Regions from separate parts of the Homo sapiens genome. Here region 1 is linked to region 2. The links come from fine-mapping of genetic effects on gene expression. A gene starts in region 2. The other region holds a variant in brackets. All regions are shown on one strand. Distances are from middle to middle. Region 1 overlaps SBNO2 (strawberry notch homolog 2). Region 2 holds the start of WDR18 (WD repeat domain 18).

Region 1 (2,897 bases), 160 kb before region 2:
CCATCTCCCTCCAGCCCGTTCATGAGCTCCGCCTCCTTCCTCGGCAGCCAGCCCTGCCCAGACACCAGCTATGCCCCCGTGGCCACCGCCTCCAGCTTGCCACCAAAGACCTGCGACTTTGCTCAGGTAGGAGCCCCAGGAGCTCACCGCGCCGTGGGGGGCAGGGTGGAGTCTGGGCCGCCCCTCCAGCTGCCCTGCGACCTCTCTCGCTCAGGCCTGCCTGGGACTCAGTGACCTCGGCTTGGCCCCTCGGCCGCAGGGTTTACGGTGGGGCAGTAGGAGCCCAGAGATGTGGCTTGGTTTTGGGGAAGAGCCAGTGACTGGCCCTTCGTGTCAGCAGTGAGCCCCGCCCAGCCCTTGGGGTCCCTGCGAGCATCTGGGCAATGCCACAGAGGGAGTTGCGGGGAGGGCGGTGCTGGGAGAGATGCCCTTGGCAGCCTTTGCCCCCACGGCCCTCCCTCTAGGCGGGTCCAGACACCCTGCACATTGGAGTCCCAACCCCTTAGCAGCCACCTGAAAACGGAACTCACATACCAAAGGAACAGAACTTTCCACCTCCTTCTCCCCAGGGTCGCGGGGAGGCTCCCAGCCTCCCACTGCGGCATCAGGCGGACCCCACCCCCACCCTCCCAGCCTCCCCCTTCGGCATCAGGCGGACCCCACCCCCACCCTCACAGCCTCCCACTGCGGCATCAGGCGGACCCCACCCCCACCCTCACAGCCTTCCCCAAGGGGTTCCCAGTGCCCCAGCTTCCTCTCGGCAGCTCTGGAGCACCCAGTGCCACAGAGATCGGCTTCCCTGGGACGGTTCGGATACCACAGCCTCCGTGTGGGACCCGGGGCCAGGGGCTGCTGCTGGGCCGGACCACATCCAGGGCCTGCCGGGGAGCGAGGGTCACCTGGTGCTCAGCTCCCCCAAGCCTCCGCTTCCCCTGTGTAATGGGCATGTGAGATCTGCCTGGGCCTCAGAGCTGTTGGGGGGATGGGCGCAAGCCGGCCAGATCCAGAGAGAAGCGGTCAGGTGTGGCTGCAGCAGAATGGAGCCAATTCAGGTCCCAGGGCTCACCCAGACCCAGGCCCTGCAAACAGCTCGCCGGGTGGACCCCGGGCCCAGTTTTCCCCACTCAGGGCCGTAGCAGAGCGGGGCAAAGCCAGCCGGACCCTGAGTCTGTGCTGGGGTGACCGCGTCCGTCAAGTCCGCCTCCCCAGTAGAGTCTGTGAGGGGACCTTCCTGGAAAGTAGGGTCTTTTTGGATGTCATTGGGTAGGGATCAAGATG[A/G]GATGAGGTAGCTCTGAAATCCAGCACAAGGGTCCTCAGAAGAGACAGGAGAGATTGGGAGCTGGCGCCACGCTGGAGGCCGGGGCTGGGGCGGTGTGGCCACAGGTCAGTTTCTCCTGGAGCCCCAGGGCTGGAAGAGGTGGGTCAGAGCTGTGGGAGGGAGCAAGGCCCTGAGACACCTTGGCCTCAGACTCCCGGGCCCTGGGACGGGAAGAGGGTGGATTCCTGTCCTGTAGCCCCCAGTGTGTGGCCTGGAAATTGGCCTACCAGCTGTGTTCAGGGGAGGGGGGCGCCCCTGCTCATCTTGGGGCTGAGGTCAGCGAGGTGCGCACAGGGGCTCTGTCCTCACCCGCAGTAGCCCTGGACCCCCATGTGATCTGGTCCTGGCCAAGGTGTGGCAAGCTGCTGCGCCATGCCAGCCGGACACAGAAGGAAACTGAGGCAGGGGAGGCGCCTGTCCAGAGCTGGCATCTGTGCCCCACCCTTCAGGGGACGCACAGGGGAGGAGCCCGGGGTGCGACTGATGGCAGTGGCTCCTTCCTCACCGCCACTGCCTTCCTACCAGCCCCAGCCCTGGGTCAGCCTGTCCTTGCCCCGCCCCCTTCTTCTCTTTCACCCCTTCTCTGCCTCTTTCTGTGTGTTCCTTCTCTCTTTCCTTTCTTTCTTTCTTTTTTTTTTTTTTTGAGACAGAGTTTTGCTCTTGTTGCTCAGGCTGGAGTGCAATGGCACGATCTTGGCTCACTGCAACCTCCGCTTCCCAGGTTCAAGCGATTTTCCTGCCTCAGCCTCCCGAGCAGCTGAGACCACAGGCATGCACCACCATGCCTGGCTAATTTTTTTTTTTTTTTTTTTGGTAGAGACAGGGTTTCTCCATGTTGGTCAGGCTGGTCTCAAACTCCTGACCTGTGGTGATCCGCCCGCCTCAGCCTCCCAAAGTGCTGGGATTACAGGCGTGAGCCACCGTGCCCGGCCTGTCTCTTTCTTTTCTCTGTCTCTCTCTCTCCCTCTTCCCCCTGCTCCTAGTCTCTCTCTCTGTCTCCCTCCCTCTCAATCTCTCTCTGCCTATCTCCCTCTCTGTCTCTGCCTCCCTCTCTGCCTCTGTCTTCCTCTCTGCCTCTGTCTCTCTCTCTGCCTCTGTCTCTGTCTCCCTCTATGCTCCATCTCTCTGTCTCCCTCTCAGTCTCTGTCTCTGTCTCCCTCTTTGTCTCTGTCTCCCTCTCTGTCTCTGTCTCTCTGTCTCTGTCTCCATCTCCGCCTCTGTCTCTCTGTCTCCCTCTCTGTCTCTGTCTGTGTCTCCCTCTCTGCTTGTCTCTGCCCCTGTCTCTCTGTCTCCCTCTCTGTCTCTGTCTCTCTGTCTCCCTCTCTGTCTCTGTCTCTTTGTCTCTGCCTCTGTCTCTCTGTCTCCCTCTCCACCTGTCTCTTTGTCTCCCTCTCTGCCTCTGTGTCTGTTTCCCTCTCTGTCTCTGTCGCCCTCTCTGTCTTCGTCTGTTTCCCTCTCTGCCTCTGTCTCTGTCGCCCTCTCTGTCTTCGTCTGTTTCCCTCTCTGCCTCTGTCTCTATGTCTCTATGTCTCTGCGTCTCTGTCTCCCTGTCTCTGTCTCTCTCCATGTCTCTGTCTCT
Region 2 (2,853 bases):
GGTGGTTGGTGCGGGCCTGTAGTTGCAGCTACTCAGGAGGCTGAGGCCCGAGAATCGCTTGAACCCTAGAGGCAGAGGCTGCAGTGAGCCGAGATCGCACCACTGCACTCCAGCCTCAGCGACAGAGTGAGACCCTGTCTCAAAACTAAAATAAAATGGGAGAAATTTATGAGTTGTGTGTAGACTCCATCAGGCAATGCTGGAGCACAGAGCCAGTCCCAAGAGATCTCAGCGGGCACACGGGGGAAGCGAGTAGCTTCAGGGACTGGCTGCATTTGGGCTTGGGAGTAGAGGGGAAACTGTGGGCGACGGTGAGTATCTGTTGCTTTATTGGAGGAATAAACATGAGTTTCCTGCGCCACCCCTTCATGGGAGACTCCCCCAGACCTTGGTCCTTCTCCCTTTTCCTCCAGAACCACAACATCCACAGAGCTCATAGGCCCCTTTTAATCAAATTTCGCGCTCCAAGAACTCGTGCATGCGCAATTGCCCCAAGGGACCCCCCGGAGCGTCTCCCATTTTCCCCCACTGCCCCCATAGCAGCTCAGGCCTGAGCCCCGCGCGTGCGCAGAGCGGCCTAACAGGTCGCACGTATCTCCCCAAAGCCCCCAGACCCGCGCATGCGCAGAGCGCCCGAACGGAGACCACCTCCCCTCCCCACGCCAATTCCGACTAAGGGTGCACGCGGCCCCCACCAACCCATCCCCCGACTTCAGCCTCGGGCGCCCCATGACCCCAGCAGCGAGACCGCACCGCCGCACCTTCCGCTGGAGCTCCCAGGCGCTGATGTAATTCTTGCCCAGCTGCGCCGCCAGCAGATACTCGCCATTGAGCAGCGCCAGGCCGCGGGGTCCCGCCTGGCCGCCGCGGTAGGTGAGCAGGTTGGCGCCCGAGTGAAGTTCCCACACGATGCAGCTCCACATCGGGGCCGCCGAGTCCGTACACACGGCCACCTCCATGGGCGCCGCCATCTTGCCTTCCCCACCGCCCCGGACGTGCGTCATCATGAGCGAGACGCGGACGACTGCCCCACGCGGGCCAGAGCGGCGGCCCCGCGGCCCCAGCGGGTGGCCGACCCGCGCATGCGCCCGTGCCTCGGAGAGAGGGGCTTTCTTGTGAAGTGGGATTTCCCGCTTACCTGAGACTCGAGGGTCGCGCGGCCTGCTTAGAGATCTGGGGAGGCGACTTCTTCCAAGGCCCAGGGTCTCCGGCGATCAGTTAGTAGCTCTAGAGCCGGGGTACCTGACTTGGCCTTTTCCTCCTGGGCATTTTTGGCCAAGTGACTCAAGCTCTTGGATTCATTTATTTTTAAATGTTCAAATAATAAAGTTCCGACGTCACAGGCCTAAATGACACATTGCGCCTAAAAGAGAGAGCGCACACCCAGCAACATGGCTAGTTGGCGATGAATACATTGGAATTCACTGCTTCCTTATTTATTTAGTTTTGTAGAGCCAGGGTCTCACTGTCCTGCCCAGGCTGGCCTCGAACTCCTGAGCTCAAGTGATCCTCCCAGCTCGGCCTGCCAAAGTGCTGGGATTACAGGCGTGAGCCACCGCGCCCGGCCCAGTGTTTCCTTATTGGTCGACATCTGCCTCCCCCTTGACCCCTCTTTAGGGGCCTCAACATCTAAATTATTAGTCGGATAGCTTGGTGTAGGTCAAACAAGTCGCCAGTTCTGTCCGAGCCAAGCAGGGTCTAACTTCATGTCACGGCTGCCCGTCACGGACCATGTCTGAAAACGGCATTCAAAAAAAAAAAAAGGCCGGGCGCTTTGGCTCAGGCCTGTAATCCCAGCACTTTGGGAGGCCGAGGTGGGTGGATTACCTGAGATCAGGAGTTCGAGACTACCCTGGCCAACATGGCGAAACCCCGTCTTTACAAAAAGTACAAAAAGCCGGGCGTGGTGGGAGGCTGAGGCAGGAGAATCGCTTGAACCCGGGAGGCGGAGGTCTCAGTGAGCCGAGATCCCAGGCACTCCAGCCTGGGCGAATGAGACTCTGTCTCAAAGAAAAACATATATCTATTATTTATTTATACTAAATATATATCTAGTAGAGATGGGGGGTCTCACTGTGTTGCTCAGGCTGGTCTCCAACACCTGGGCTTAGGCCTTGGCCTCTTAAACCGCTGGGATTACAGGCTTCAGCCACAACGTCCGGCCTAAAAACAGTATGATTTAAAATGTGCAATTAGTTGCCAACCCCTTAAAAAGGGATAAAAAGGGAGCATTCATTTAAAAGTCGGGATTTCCGCCCGGGGGTTGCAGCTGACCTGGGTCGTGTGCCCTCGAGCAGCAAGAGGCAGGGGCTGGAGGCTGCATGCGGGGTGCGGTCCCCGGAGGCGGTGCGACTCCTGGTCCGCGGCTCCCGGCGGAGGGCACGGCCGGGGCAGGAGGCTGGTGCCAGAGCGTGCGGCGCCGCAGCCCCGCTGGCCGCCAGGTGGCAGGCGCGAGCCACCGACCCCGAGCCCAGGCCAGAGGGAGGGCGGCCCCGGGGACCCGCCTGGTCGGCAGGAGGGGCCGTTTGAGCGGGGAGCCAGCGACCCCCAGAGAACCGTGTGCGGGGCAGGCCCGTGCGAAGGCCCTGGGGCAGGACCACGGAGCGGGGCCGGGCCGTGCAGGGCCGTGTGAACGAGGCCTGGATTTCATTTTATCCTGGGAGGGAGGGAGGGAGTCCAATCCAAGGACCTGCTGTGCCTCCAGAGTTTCCTCCAACCTCATTTTTATTTTCTTTCTTTATTTTGCGACAGTCTTGCTCTGTGGCCCAGGTTGGAGTGCAATGGTGCGATCTCGGCTCACTGCTACCTCTGCCTCCCGGGTTCAAGCGATTCTCCTGTCTCAGCCTCCCGAGT

What was found. PIP is the estimated chance that this variant, and not a neighbour inherited with it, causes the effect. A credible set is the group of variants that fine-mapping cannot tell apart.
Region 1: its variant is the best candidate, but not a certain one, in a credible set for the expression of WDR18 in skeletal muscle (GTEx, PIP 0.89).

Annotation. Positions count from the first base shown.
Region 1 is chr19:1,144,538-1,147,434 of GRCh38, reverse strand. SBNO2 (strawberry notch homolog 2) reads left to right here. Exons shown (of 32, transcript NM_014963.3): 4 at 15-126. Among named protein-coding and RNA genes, the nearest start is that of SBNO2, 28 kb to the left of the region's middle. The variant A/G (reference allele first, on the strand shown) is at 1,279.
Region 2 is chr19:982,472-985,324 of GRCh38, reverse strand. It overlaps WDR18 (WD repeat domain 18), which reads right to left and starts at 980. Exons shown (of 10, transcript NM_024100.4): 1 at 762-980. The coding sequence starts at 971. RefSeq lists enhancers at 661-840, 871-1,020, 445-1,386 and silencers at 1,071-1,160, 2,325-2,714.